4 linked regions of the Homo sapiens genome follow. The protein of the gene in region 4 purifies or fractionates together with the protein of the main gene of each other region. This does not show direct contact. Each region holds a gene or a part of one and is shown on either strand. Other genes may lie near its edges.

The links. Proteins that work in one complex are often made in the same cells at the same time.
Region 1: the proteins of ENG (region 4) and QDPR purify together in Homo sapiens (affinity purification with mass spectrometry; one large-scale study listed by BioGRID and IntAct). This does not show direct contact.
Region 2: the proteins of ENG (region 4) and ATG4B purify together in Homo sapiens (affinity purification with mass spectrometry; one large-scale study listed by BioGRID and IntAct). This does not show direct contact.
Region 3: the proteins of ENG (region 4) and ACVR2A purify together in Homo sapiens (affinity purification with western blotting, with the first as the bait; 2 studies listed by BioGRID). This does not show direct contact.

The regions. Positions count from the first base shown.
Region 1 is NC_000004.12:17,502,091-17,505,776, forward strand, and holds part of QDPR (dihydropteridine reductase), read right to left. Parts: intron 2,386-3,686; coding exon 2,289-2,385; intron 1-2,288. UniProt on the Homo sapiens protein: Catalyzes the conversion of quinonoid dihydrobiopterin into tetrahydrobiopterin.
Region 2 is NC_000002.12:241,640,507-241,644,192, reverse strand, and holds part of ATG4B (cysteine protease ATG4B), read right to left. Parts: intron 1-3,686. UniProt on the Homo sapiens protein: Cysteine protease that plays a key role in autophagy by mediating both proteolytic activation and delipidation of ATG8 family proteins. Required for canonical autophagy (macroautophagy), non-canonical autophagy as well as for mitophagy.
Region 3 is NC_000002.12:147,847,843-147,851,528, reverse strand, and holds part of ACVR2A (activin receptor type-2A isoform 1 precursor), read right to left. Parts: intron 1-3,686. UniProt on the Homo sapiens protein: On ligand binding, forms a receptor complex consisting of two type II and two type I transmembrane serine/threonine kinases.
Region 4 is NC_000009.12:127,837,659-127,841,158, forward strand, and holds part of ENG (endoglin isoform 1 precursor), read right to left. Parts: intron 1-3,500. UniProt on the Homo sapiens protein: Vascular endothelium glycoprotein that plays an important role in the regulation of angiogenesis. Required for normal structure and integrity of adult vasculature. Regulates the migration of vascular endothelial cells.

The DNA of each region.
Region 1 (3,686 bases), on a different chromosome or scaffold from region 4:
TGGCCAATAAATTTTACAAAATAAACCTGGAGTTTACTGATTTGCTGGACTGGCTTTAATTCAAAGATTGTTTTATTTTATGAATGGTATCAGATTTGTAATAAGAACCTATATGTCTACGTCAGGTTTTCTCTGTGATAAAAATCCAAGGGCCTATTACTGTACAGCTATAAAGAGAGCTTTTACTGAGCTACATATTTTATGTCTGAAAGTTTAATGTTAGCTTTAAAGACTCTTCAAAAGAAAGCTAAAATAACAACCATTTTACACTTGTTTTAACTCCCCGGCCTTGCCAGAGACATAAGGAAGAACAAATGGTAACATATGTCACACCACCAACTGGGCAACTCGAAGGGCATGTGGTACCTGGTGATCAAAAAAGGATGTCCTCCTGATATAGGAGGGGTTGGTAGGTGATAAACAAGAAATTGCATTTCCCCACTAAAAAAGACTAGGAAAAAAACCTGATGGATCCACATTTATCATTTCTTGCTCCCAAAACATACAAAAAGGTTATCAAGCTGTTTTGCTAACCTGATCACCTCACAAAGCACCACTCTCACATTGACATGTGGGTCACAGAATGTCAACGTCTTTTTAAATGGCTTTGGCTAATAAATGTAGAAGGGATGACAGAATTAGAAAACTACCATTTTCCAACCCCTGAATAAGTGCTTCAGGCAGAGATTATCAACGAAGGACTAAAACCACTGGGTGAAAAGTATAATACTTGGGAAACAGGACATTCACACACAATACCACAATACCACACATCCCACAGATGACTGACTTACTGCAAACAGAAAAAAAGTACCTTTATAATGGAAGTCTGGCAGTTGCCATCTCAACCAAGCATCAAATTTGGCATCCCTAAGGGTAGGGCAAGCTGCCATGCTGAGCTTCCCAGGTGATGTCATATAAGGTACACACCATCACTCAGGAAGAATTCGCACCACAAGAATGTTTATGCTAAATCTAACTGAGTCTCTAGACCCAAATTCCAGTTCACGGGGAATACCAAGGATAGAGGAACAAGTCAAACAACCCCTTAAAGAAAAGTTCAGACAAGTTCAGAATGTGAGACATGCTATATGAAAACTCCCAAGGACTTGACAAAAAGTCTTATCACAGGGGATTTTTTTAAAAATTCTAGATTTTCTAGATTAAGAGACTAAAAACAACATAATGCAGTACATAAACCTTGAGTGGAATATGTTTAGGGAAAAAGAACTATAATAGACATGGAATAAACTGGGGAAATTTGAATATGGGCTCAATATCATTAATCTTAGATAATCACTGTTAACTTTCTTAGGTACAATGGTACCATAATAATGTAGGACGGGCTTATTCTTTGGAGAAACACGCGGAAATATAGTGAGGTGTAAACTTATTTTCAAACAGTTAACAAAAAACAATGCACAAAGTACACAGGCACAAGAAAACAAGCTCAACTCAAGTACAGCAAATGTTAACAGTTACTGAATCTAGATGGAGCATATAAGGGTGTTCATTGAACTGTTCTTTCAACTTTTCTGGTATGCTTAGAAATGTTCATAATGAAAAGTTGAAAAATGGGCCAGGCGCACTGGCTCACGCCCGTAACCCCAGCACTTTGGGAGGCTGAAGGGGGTGGATCACCTGAGGTCAGGAGTTCAAGACCAGCCTGGGCAACATGGTGAAACCCCGTCTCTACTAAAAATACAAAAAATTAGCTGGGCTTGGTGGTGGGCACCTGTAATATCAGCTACTCGGGAGGCTGAGGCAGGAGAATCGCTTGAACCTGGGAGGCAGAGGTTGCAGTGAGCCGAGATTACACCATTGCACTCCAGCCTGGTGACAGAGCAAGACTCTGTCTTAAGAAAAAGGGTAGGGGAGTAGAGGGGAGGGGAGGGAAGGGAAGGGAAAAGAAAAGATGAAAAAAGGAATCAGCTTTAGTAAAATCTCAAGTTTGACTTCTTCTGACTTTCTAAATGATCTCTGCACTTCCTACACATCCTCCAATGCCTGAATAGCACATGGCCTGGGGCACAGGCCATGCTGATTTCATTCTGCCTCTACTTTAAACTCAAACTCAATGCCCCCCGTCCCCTCACGTCCTCCAGGGGAAGCTTCTTCTTTATCCGTAAAATGGATTAAGAGCATTAATCACTCTCTCCCCGAGCAACTGTAAAGATTCCGGGATATACACAAAAAAACAGCTGGCCTGTCACCTAGTGCAAACCCAATCCTTGTCAGCTGGAAAAAGAGCAGAGCAGAACAAATGAGTGACTCAGGAAAGGACTCACACTTGGATTTGGCATTGCCCCCGGCCCATCCTCCAGCAACGCAAAGAATTGCATCCACCTTCTCTTCACCCAAGAGCTTTCCAACCTCAGCAGTCACCTTCAACACAAGAACAAAAAAATGTATAAACTGTAAGGTAAGCCAACACAGGCTAGCATCTTTACGGATACTCAGTTTCTTTTTCTCTTCTTTTTAAGCCAGTTTACAGTACCTGGCAATTAATGCTTTGAGAATTAGACGGAAGACTAAGCTCTGATGAGCATTTTAGACATTGAAGCCCAAGTACACTTCAGTGTGATTTTTAAAAAACAATCTAGAGTCTCTGTGTATACATTCTGAAAGGTAGAGACATGAGCATCCCTTGAAATACAACAATTAATAAATAAAAGTAGGGAAAGGTTAAAAAAAAAAGAAAAAAGCACCTAGAGCTTCACTGCCTGCACATAGTTAACATCCTGGTGTATTTCTTTCCAGACTCTCTTCACAAATCACAGAATTATAATCCAAAAAGAAGATCAACCCTGTTTTCCCCACCCCAATCCAAAAATCCCTTTAACTGCAACTCTGAAAAAAATGCCAACGAAAAATTGTAAGAAAAATCATGAGCCAAGAAAAAATACAGTCAATAGCAATATGTTGGTAATATTAAGTACATGGGGGTTCACTTTAATGATCTCTCTGCTTCTGTTTGTTTGAGATTTTAAAGCATTGAAAATATATGTATGCCCTCTTGTTATAATTTATGAAAAGAACAGTCTGTCAGGACAGGCAATTCTGGCCATCCACCACGACTCTTCCGTATTTCTCTGGAATGGCTGAGATGACAAATCCCAATTGCTTCATTAAGATCAATCTTCTTAAGATTTCTTTTTTTTTTTTTTTTTTTTTTGAGATGGAGTTTCGCTTGTCTCCCAGGCTGGAGTGCGATGGCGCCATCTCGGCTCACTGCAACCTCCACCTCCCCGGTTCAAGCGAATCTCCTGCCTCAGCTTCCTGAGTAGCCGGGATTACAGGCGCCTGCCACCACACCTAGCTAATTTTTGTATTTTTAGTAGAGATGGGGTTTCGCCATGTTGGCCAGGCTTGTCTCGAACTCCTGACCTCAGGTGATTCGCCTGCCTCGGCCTCTCAGAGTGCTGGGACAACAGGACTGAGCTACCACGCCTGGCCCAATCTTCTTAAGATTTAAATCAGGCTGGGCACAGTGGCTCATGCCAGTAGTCCCAGCACTTTGGGAGGCAGAGGCAGAAGGATCACTTGAGCCCAGGAGTTCAAGACCAGCCCGGGCAACATAACAAGACCTCATCTCTACATTTAGTTTTTTTTAAAAAAGACTTAAATCAACACCCTGTGTCTCTCCCAGTAGGAACATTTCAGTTGATTACCTCTTTCCCCAGTTT
Region 2 (3,686 bases), on a different chromosome or scaffold from region 4:
GTATTTTTTGTAGAGGTGGGGTTTCCCTATGTTAAGCAGGCTGGTCTCAAACTCCTGGGCTCCAGTGATCCACCCACCTCAGCCTCCCAAAGTGCTGGGACTACAAGTGTGAGCCACCACACTTGTTCCTTCACTGACTCTCAGATGTATGAGATCCACTTAGGCCTGACACCAGCTGCCTCAGCAATTCGCCATGGAGAGGTTCCCTTGTCTTATTTCATAGCCCCTGTCATAATTTCATCATCTTCCCGTGCCACATCATGTGATTTATAAGGTAATTCATGTAGCTCCTGATAGAAAAGGAGTCAAACTTCGGAAAAAATATCCACTCGCCGGGTGCAGTGGCTCACACCTGTAATCCCAGCACTTTAGGAGGCCAAGGTGGGTGGATCACCTGAGGTCAAGGGTTCAAGACCAGCCTGGCCAACATGGCAAAACCCCGTTGCAGTGAGCCGAGATCACGCCACTGCACTCCAGCCTGGACGACGGGGGGGGGGGAAAATATATACATACACACACACACACACACGTATATATATATTTATACATATATGTGTATATATTTATGTGTATATATACGTATATATATGTTTATATATATATGTACATATATACATAAATAAATATATAGACCCATCTCTAGACTTCCAGGTAATGATATTAATTTGAAATAAGATGACATGTAAGGCCAGGTGCCGTGGCTCATGCCTGTAATCCCAGCACTTTAAGAAGCCAAGATGGGAGGATCACTTGAGCCCAGGAGTTTGAGACCAGCCTGGGCAATACAGGGAGACCCTGTCTCTCTTAAAAAAAAAAAAAAAAAAAAAATAGCTAGGCGTGGACATCTGTAGTCTTAGCTACTGAGGAATGTGAGGCAAGAAGATCACTTGAGCCCAGGAGGTCAAGGCTGCAATGAGCTGAGGCCGCAACACCATACTCCAGTCTGAGCGATGAAGTGAGACCCTGCCTCAAAAAAAGATGACACGCAGGAGGAACAAGATGAAGAAGTAGGTTGGGTGTGGTGGTTCACCTGTAATCCCAGCACTTTGGGAGGCCGAGGCGGGCAGATCACTTGAGGTCAGAAGTTCGAGAACAGCCTGGCCAACATGGTGAAACCCCATCTCTACTAAAAATATAAAAAAGTTAGCCAGGCATGGTGGTGCACACCTGTAATCCCAGCTACTCGGGAGGCTGAGGCAGGAGAATCTCTTGAACCCAGGAGGCGAAGGCTGCAGTGAGCTGAGATAGAGCCACTGCACTCCAGCCAGTCTGGGCGACAGTGAGACTCCGTCTTAAAAAAAAAAAAAAAAAAAAAAAAAAGGACGGAGAGGTGCTGTACACCTTAAGAAAGAGTCCCCCTTAGAAGCAGTTCTCCCATTTGGTCGGCTGGATCCCAGACACTTGATTTTCCACGCCCTCTTCCCTGGGACTTCTGCGATCACAAGCAGAAGAGGGCAGATGGCATTTTAATAATATAGTAATTCCATCAGAAAAAACATGTGACTTAGTACTACTAATCTGACAGGCAGAAATGTAGGGAATTGTACTCAATGAATTTAACCAACTTCTCTCCATTTAGTACCAATTACACTTCATTCAACCAGAGAGGACTACAAAAAAAAACGAGTAAATTTAAGAGCTTACTGTAAACCACTTCATTTCGAAGAAACCTTCCTAAAACACTTAGAAGTTATTTTCCAAAAGATTTATATTTTATAAATTCAACAAAGGTTCTTCTTTTCCTTTAGAAAGCTCTTAGGTTTAAGATAACAGTTTGCATATGATTACTACTTTTTTTTAAATCTCCAAGAGTTTACATGAGAATGCTAGTAGTTCAGTCCTGAATGAAAACAGAGAAAGAGAGAAAGGAACTCCAAATTTAGCTACATCAGAAAGCTAGAAAACACTGTTTCAGTGCACACACTGGGCAGATTGCGCACATTAAAACCCACTCCCCTAGATCGCGCCCACCGCACTCCAGCCTGGGAAACAGAGCAAGACTCCATCTCAAGAAAAAAAAAAAAACCACTCCCCAGCAGCCTCTGCATTCATTACATGTTATGCTAACATACTGGATTTATGTTAAACTCTACAAACTGAAAGCTTTGATAGTAGGGGAATGTGTAGGTTATTATTAATTCAAGTTCTGTTTTTTTTTTATTACCAACCACATGCCAGACACAAGTGATGCACTAGAAATGCAAGCACAAGACACCAGCTCTGTCCTCAAGGAATGGGCAGTGTGGCTATTTAAGTGCTGGCACCTGCCAGTCGTCTGAATGGGGAGCATGCTTTTAGGGACAGTGCTAGGGACTGGTGGAGAACACAGCCACACTGTGGTCTGCCTGCCACCTCCTGGACCTCTCCACACCCGCAGAGGCCTTTGGCCTCTTTTCTTTCCCACCCACATTCACACCCTGGGTGACCTCATCTGATGTGACCTCCAGTCTATCTCCAGCCCAGGCTTATTCTTTTAGCTCCAAACCTGTAGACCCAAAAGCCCACTGGACACTGCTCTACAAGGATGTCTAACATCCACCTCACATTCAACACACATAAATCCAAACTCGCAACAGAAAGCTTCCCACCAGACAGGACCTCCCCAAGTCTTCCCCATCTGAGTTTCTTTTTTTTTTTTTTTTTGAGACAGAGTCTCGCTCTGTCGCCCAGGCTGGAGTGCAGTGGCGCAGTCTTGGCTCACTGCAAGCTCCGCCTCCCGGGTTCACGCCATTCTCCTGCCTCAGCCTCCTGCGTAGCTGGGATCACAGGCGCCCGCCACTATGCCCGGCTAATTTTTTGTATTTTTAGTAGCGACGGGGTTTCACCGTGTTAGCCAGGATGGTCTCGATCTCCTGACCTTGTGATCCGCCCACCTCGGCCTCTCAAAGTGCTGGGATTACAGGCGTGAGCCACCACGCCCGCCCCCCTCCATCTGAGTTGCTTAGCTCAGGCCATACACTATGGGGCCATCTTTAACTCCTCCCTCTCTACCCATCCCTCTCCCAACTTCCAATCTACAAACAAATTCTATTGTCTCAACCTCCAAAACACATGCAGAAGTCAACCTCTTACCCACCCTGAGCTAATCCACTGGCATCTCCTTGCTGGCTTGTTCAACAGTCTCTTAGCTGGTCTCGCTGCCTCTGCCCTTGCCCCTCTGCAGTACATTCTCAAAAGAGATGCCAGAGCAAGCCTGTTGAACACAGTCTATCATGTGACTCCTCCTCTAGAATGAAACCTTCCAAACGGCTGCCATCCTGTTCAGAATAAACACTGAGTCCTCACTATGAGCTGCCATCCTGTTCAGAATAAACACCGAGTCCTCACTATGAGCTGGCAAGGCCCCACTACACTGAGCCTAAGTCACCTTTCTATCCTCAGCTCCTGCTTCTCCCACCGCCACCCGCTGCACCTGAGCCACACCAGGCTCTTGCTACCTGCCCTTCCTCCTACACTGCTTTAAGTCTTCGTCAAAACTTAAACCTTCAGAGTGAGACCCTTCCTGGCCATCCTGGCTACAATTCCAATCCTCCTCATCCTTGGCCCAAATCACCATCCCCCAGGAGCCACGCACTTCGCTGCTAATGCTGGTCTCATGTCTAGAACGTTAGCTACCCCAGGGCAATGGTTTTCATCTATGTTGTTACTTCTCTAGTCCTAGTGTCTAGAACAATGCCTAACACATA
Region 3 (3,686 bases), on a different chromosome or scaffold from region 4:
TACACATTTAAGAAACTGCAAGTCAAGTCTGTATGGATGGAATATAGTACTCAGGCTGAGGAGAAGCTGCAGCAGAATAACTAGCATTTAATATTCAAACCACTCTCTGAGGTAGGCACTATTAATATCCCCCCATTGTGTAGATGAGAAAACTGAGGCACACAAAGGTGAAGTAACTTGACCAAGGTTAAGTTATGAAACCAAGATTTAAACCAATTAGGTCTATATCCAGAGTCTATACTCTTAACCAATACCAAGAGGTTAGAAAAAATAGGCAGGAACCAAACGATGAAGGACCTTTTATGACATTCTAAGACTTTAGATTCTATGCTAAAGGTGACTCACAGTCAGTGAAAGGTTTTAAGCAAGGGTAACATATTCAGATTTATTTTTTAATAAGATCACTCCAGCAGCTATGCAGATGGACTAGAAAGAAAAGGAAGTAGTGATAGGGAACTGGTGAATCTTAGCTAGAAAAGTGCTACAATAATCAAGTAACAGAAAATGATACATAAGCTAGATACTGGCAGCACTGACACCACAGCTCAAGTCTACCAACCTCTACGACCACATTCTTGATCACTATCCATATGAAGTTTCCAATTCTTTCCCTTAGGTCCACCACTCTAACAGTTCAAAAAATCCAATCTCAGAGACAAAAACATATTTCCTTTAAGTCCCTTTATTAAAACAAAGCCTGACCTCTAGATGCACTGGGTATACAAAAGTGACTAACAAGAAATCTAGGTGGAGAATGACAGAAAGTCACTTGCTATCTACAGTAGTTTTCTTACCTTCTTGATTTCTCCTCCTCCTCCTCCTTCCTCTATACACTATTCCTGGAATTTTCATGTTCAATAGTCAATTTGAAATCAATGTTCTGTCTAGACATGACTATTTTACAATCTAACAGAATTAAATCTACCACAGAGGAAGTCTAATGTGGTCCTATCAGCAGCAATAAATATACTCTTGGTTCTAGTCAAATTTTGGCTTAAACAGAGATGATAAATGAATAATAAGATGAGCGAAACTTTTTCTGAAGCAGCAAAGAGTTAAGGAAAACCTGAATATTAAAAAAGAGAATAAGAGCAATCTAAAGTTCAAGCCATTTGATTCTAAGAGAGTAACACTATTCCCAAGAGGGTGTGCGAGGTAGTCCAGAAACCAGTAAATGAAAAAACAGTGGAAAAGACTATCTGGTCAATTCTCAAGCATTCTAAATTCAATCTGTTTTCATTAAAACTACGGGTAAGCCCTCTGGAGTCACCCATGATGCTAAGCCACAACTGGGTTCCACAAGCAAGCAGTATAAGGAAGTACAGAAGGGTCAGGGGAAGAAAAGGGAGTAGACAAAGAAGGGAGGAAAATGGAAAGGGAACAATAATGAAAGGGAATGGAAAAAACAATGAGTTACAGAGCAGTGAGCAAAAAGCTAAGGCATACCAGTGACCCCTAGTATCAAATGTTGCCAACCTTACCTATAATCTGAGACAACATGGCAACTGGCAACTTAACAGACCATGAAAACACAAATTTAAATCATTGGACTCATGAAATATCAAAGATGAGAAAATCATAGTAGCACTTTAAAAAGTCAAAATGCAACAAAATAAAGTCTTGGAATCTAAAGAAACAATTTAGAGATTACTAAAATCTCATTTGGTTTAGTTGTGCTTCTCTTAAGAACAGTGAGTCTGGTGGACCCAAAAGGCGAAAATGTCAGTATCAGAGAGAAGGGTATGGAGAGGTGTGTTACAAAGACACTGTGAGGCTCATTTGGACACCATTTGTGGGAATGACTTCAGAATTTTCCTCTCTATGGTATAATGCTCCTTAATTTGCTAAGAGTTTCACTGTAATTCTTATCTTGGTTGGCTAGGTTAACTCCCTTAAAACCAGAGTTCAAAACAAGGTAAGCATTTTATTAATTATGGTCAAGATTTAGCCTTAAAAAGGGAAACGATCTGCAATAGATCATAAAATATTACTTACTGTATCATGAATTAGTCTAACGGTAACCAAAACCCAGCTAGTGATTCTCAAGATAATTATGTAATTAAGAGATTAGGTTAAAAGTTTCTTGAAATTAAAGTTAGCTAGACAAAAGAAATATCTTTTTTAAAAAAACAGAATTTCTACCTTGAAACTATTCAGGGAACATGTAATAGTGAACATATTTCAGGCAACATGTTACACACACACACGAATACCGCCATAAGGCAGCCCAATGATGTCAGTAAAAATAAAGGCAAATATCCTTAAAGATCATATCATGGCAAAGAAAATCCTGGATCTAAAGCAAATATAATTAAACTTGATACCTTAACCAATCATTCATTATGTCCAGGAACATGCAGTCTTCATGAGCACTCTATCAAAATCGGTGATAGGAGAGTTTATCCATAAGTCATTGGAATATTTTATTATAGTATAAAATATTATACTATACTGGTGAATTCTCAAGCATTTCATCAAGGATGAAAGAATGTGCGTATCTATAGTCTGTTTCTCTAATTTAATCATATTCTAATTTAAAAGATAATGAAAAGATAAAAATCTTTCAATACAACGTTACCTGGAGATCATCAATACCATGTACTTGTAAAATTTAGATTACTAACTTTAGGGGGAAGAGAGCAGAGCCCTTTTACTAATAAACTACTGCTTTTAAAATTTAAGAGTTTAGAACTGAGTTTTTCCTTTTTTTTTAATTTGTATTTTAGGTTTGGGGGTACATGTGAAGGTCTGTTACATGGGTAAACTCGTATAATGGGGTTTGCTGTGCAGATTACTTCATTACCCAGGTATTAAGTCCAGTACCCAATAGTTATCTTTTCTGCTCATCTACCTCCTCCCACCCTCCATCCTTGAGTAGACCCCAGTGTCTGCTGTTCTGTTCTTTGTTTTCATGTTTTCTCATCATTTTGCTCCTACTTATAGGAACATGTGGTATTTGGTTTTCTTAGAACAGGGTTTTTTGACCTCTACACTACTGACATATTGAGCCAGCTAACTCTTTGTTGTGGAAGGCTGTACCATGTATTTTAGGACGATTAGAAGCATCCCTGCCCTCTACCCAACTAGATGCCAGTAGCACACCCCGTCCCCTGTTGTGACAACCAAAAATGTCTCCAAATGTCCCATGGATGGGGATCTGGGGAAGTAGGGAGGGGGACTCACCCCAGCTTGAGAACTGTTGGCTTAGATCATAAACAGGAAAAAAAAATAGAAAATGAATGGAGGGAGAATTTTGTTTCATTTTGTTTCTAGTCTCCATGTTTCAATGTATTATATTTGAATTTGACCACAGACACCATTTATAAGAGATTCTGCCTTTTAGAAAACAAAGTATTTATCATCCATCACTTGTTAATCAAAGTTCAAAAGAATCCCAAAAGATTCTCTGTAATGCTAACTCCCCCTCCAACCACACATACATTCACACATACACAGTACTGCCTAGCTGAACTGAAGAAAACATAATTACCATATTTCCATTTCCTCTTTCATCAAATACATTGACCATACTGCTCCAGCTCCCACAAAATCCAAAGGAATTCTCAACTTACTTCTATGCAACTCAAATACCACAATAGCTGCATAACTCTAGATAGGATAAATCTAAGTACTAAAGCAAGTATTAAAGTCATTCTCATACTTCAACAAACTGTGGGGAAAGACAC
Region 4 (3,500 bases):
CACTTGGGAATAGCCAATCACCAAATGCTTATAAGAATGTACAGTTTTTCCTTCCTTTCTTTTATTCTCTCTCCCTCCCGCCCTTATCCATCCATCCTCTCATCCATGCATGAATGCATCCATCCATCCATCCATCCATCCATCCATCCATCCATCCAACAGATATTGATTCCTGGGCTGACTTCGAGCTTAACACCAAAGATTCAGCAGTAAGAGGGCAGGCACAATCCCTGCTCAGCCTGTCTGACCCTCCCCAACCCCCAATCCTGCCCCTTCAGCAAGCCTGCCTCTAATATTTGCAAGGCCTGAGACAAGAATACAAATGGCAGCCTCTGGCCCCAGTGCTTTCTCCTTCTCATCACTGTGGTTCTGACAGCCAGCAAGGGTGCTCATGTGTCCACATGTGGACAGCTCAGCCCGGATACCCAAACTCCACCATGCCTGCCTCCCCAAGTAGCCAACTCAACCATCCTTCAGGTCTGGGGGAGCTCACATAGCCATGCAGTGCTCCCCTGGAGGATGGAACAGGAAAGATCCCTGCAGCCCTGAGAGGAGGCTCAGAGCCATTTGGGATTTTGGGGTCCTGGGTACCCAGAGCATCATCTAGAAGGGAGGGGTGCAGGTTTCAGGGGGGTACATCCCTTTGGCCCCACAGAGTCCCCACCCTGGGAGAGGGCTGCCATTGGCAGAGGGCCAGAGGGAGACTGCTTCCCCCAAGCCCAGGCAGGGGTCCCCTTTGCCCAAGTCTGAGGGCTGTACTGCCTTCCATGGCCTCCCACTGCCTCCCAGGACAGTCTGGGGGAGCTAAGGTCCCTCCCGGCTCTCTCTCTCTGCCTGAGTGGTGTTGCCTGCCCCTCTGGTCAAGAGTGAGTCAGTGCTGGGGCCTGACAGGCTGTGTCTGTTCAGGGGTGGGTGGGGTCTCAGCTGCCCCAAGTTTGCCCAGGAGTGGGTGAATCAGTGCTGACCCAGCTCTGCCCTGGCCTGGCAGCCTGTGCATTTGTTAGGAGGATAGCAGATCGGCCCAGTCAGCCTGACGGGAATTGCTGAGACACCAGGCTGGTTTCCTGTCTCCGAGGGTCAGGATGTGACCCTGGGCCCCCTCCCGGAATCCAGGCTCCGGCCTGCCCTTCAGGGACCCAGCGAGATCCAGCCCCTGCCCAGCGGGGCTGTCTGCAGACCTGCCCAGCACACGCACTGAGCGGCACTTCCCCAAGGCTCTCGGCTGCCACCGCCCATCTACCACCCACCCACAGGAAATCTGAGGATTCTGAGGGATGGACGGGAAAGCCACTTCTCTGTGCCAGAGATCGAAGAAGCCGGCCATAGGTCAGGAGGGATCCGGCTGGCTGCTAAAAGCCACCACCCCCACTACCACGTCCAGCCCCATGCCGCTAGGCCTTTGCTGTGCACTGGCTTCTGCCTGGAATGCCCTCTACCCTGCTCTTGGGCTAGACACCAGGGGCCTTTTCCCTAACGCCCCTCCCTCCTCTACCTTCAGTGCTCATCACCCCATCACCTGCGGCCCCCTGAAGCCCCATTTGCTGATCCCACCACTCATACCAGGGCTGCTGATGCCACCTCTGCCTCCCTGGCTCTACCTTCTGTCTGCATCATCAACACAGGCTGGGCACAGAGTGGCACCTGGTGAGGGCTGCGCAATGGGGACTATGAGCTCTAGACCCCACTCTTAGGGGATGCCTGGGGAGGAAGGTGCCTCCCAGGGAAACCACAGGGTCCTCAGTGGTCACAGCAGTAGGGGCTGGCAGCATCATGGGCTCAACCCTCAGAGCAGGGAGACAAGAAGCAGCAGGAGGAGGAAGGCCCAGCTCCATGAGGCTGGACCTCAGCTTGCCCTGCTGAAAATGAATTCACAGCCCTGCCCCATTAATCTTTTTTTTGTTGTTGTTTTGTTTTTGAGACAGGGTCTTGCTCTGTCGCTCAGGCTGGAGTGCAGTGGTGCGAACTCGGCTCACTGCAATCTCCACCTCCCGGGTTCAAACGATTCTCTTGCCTCAGCCTCTCTAATAGCTGGGATTACAGGCACCTGCCACCACGCCTGGCTAATTTTTGTATTTTTAGTAGAGATGCGGTTTCGCCATGTTGGCCAGGCTAGTCTCGAACTCCTGACCTCAAGTGATCTGCCTGCCTCAGCCTCGCAAAGTGCTGGGATTACAGGTGTGAGCCACTGCGCCTGACCTGCCCCATTGATCTTGTAGCAATAACCATTGAGGTTCAAATTATTCAACTGATACGAAGACATTCTGTAAACGGTAACAACCCTGGCAAAATGGGGATGTTCACAGAGGAGAAATGGAACCCAGAGAGAAATAATAATAACAATAACCGTAGCCACCATACGCTGAGCCGTCACTCCAGGCAGGTCCTGCGCTTGGTGTTTTGCTTGCACCGTCCTGCTGGATTCTTACAACACACCTGTGAGGTAGGTGCTGCTAATGGGTCCAGGTTTCCCGTGGGAAAATCAAAGCTCGGAGGTGGCCCAAGGCGATGTGGCTCTCAGAGGCGGAGCCACAGTTCAGCTGGAGGGCTGCCTGGCTCCAGAACCTGTGTTCTCAACCCCTGCATCAAGGTCATACAGCGGCGCACACATTTGTGCACGCATGCGTGCATTCACTCACACGTTCAAGAGTTACTTGGGGCCAGACGCAGTGGCTCATGCCTGTAATCCCAGCACTTTGGGAGGCCGAGGTGGGCGGATTATTTGAGGTCAGGAGTTCAAAACTAGCCTCTCCAACATGGTGAAACCCTGTCTCTACTAAAAATACAAAAATTAGCTGGGCATGGTGGCAGACGCCTGTAATCCCAGCTACAGGAGTCTGAGGCAAAAAACAAACAAACAAAAACAACAAAAAACAAACAAACAGAGTGATTTGGTGTAAGCCAGGCCCCTGGGCCAGGTTCTGCTACTCTGTGTTCTCAGGTGAGCTCCTGAGTCCGAGAAAGGTGTGTCTACCAGCAAGTGGGGAGAAGGACCACCCTCTGCACACCAGATGCTATGCGAGGTGCTGGCCAGGGACAGATCCAGGACTGAACCCTGGGTTTCCTGGACCCCAGATGTCTCTACCACCTCCTCAAATGAACATCCCTCAAAGCCCTGGAGCCTGCAGCCTGGCTCCTTGAATTAAAAGTTGGAAGCTCCCTGGAGCGAGTTCTCTAGAAGAGGCAGAGGCTAACAGGGAGATTTTGTTGTCATGAACTCAAGGATCCTTGGAATATGGCATGAGTTACAGTGGCCCCCTGCCATGCCCCTAAAATCCCTCCAAGAACTGTTATTGCCCACGGGATAAAGATCAAACTTCTTAATATGGCGACAGGCCTTTGCCATCTCCCCTGTCCTGCTGGGGAACCTCTAGCTCCTGCCACCTGATGACCCCAGAGCCTGTTCCCTCTGCCTCCGCATTCACTCTATTCTGTGCTCTTCCACACCACCTCCTTCCTTGGTGAGCTCCTGGACATCCATGATGTTTCTTCCTCCAGGCCCA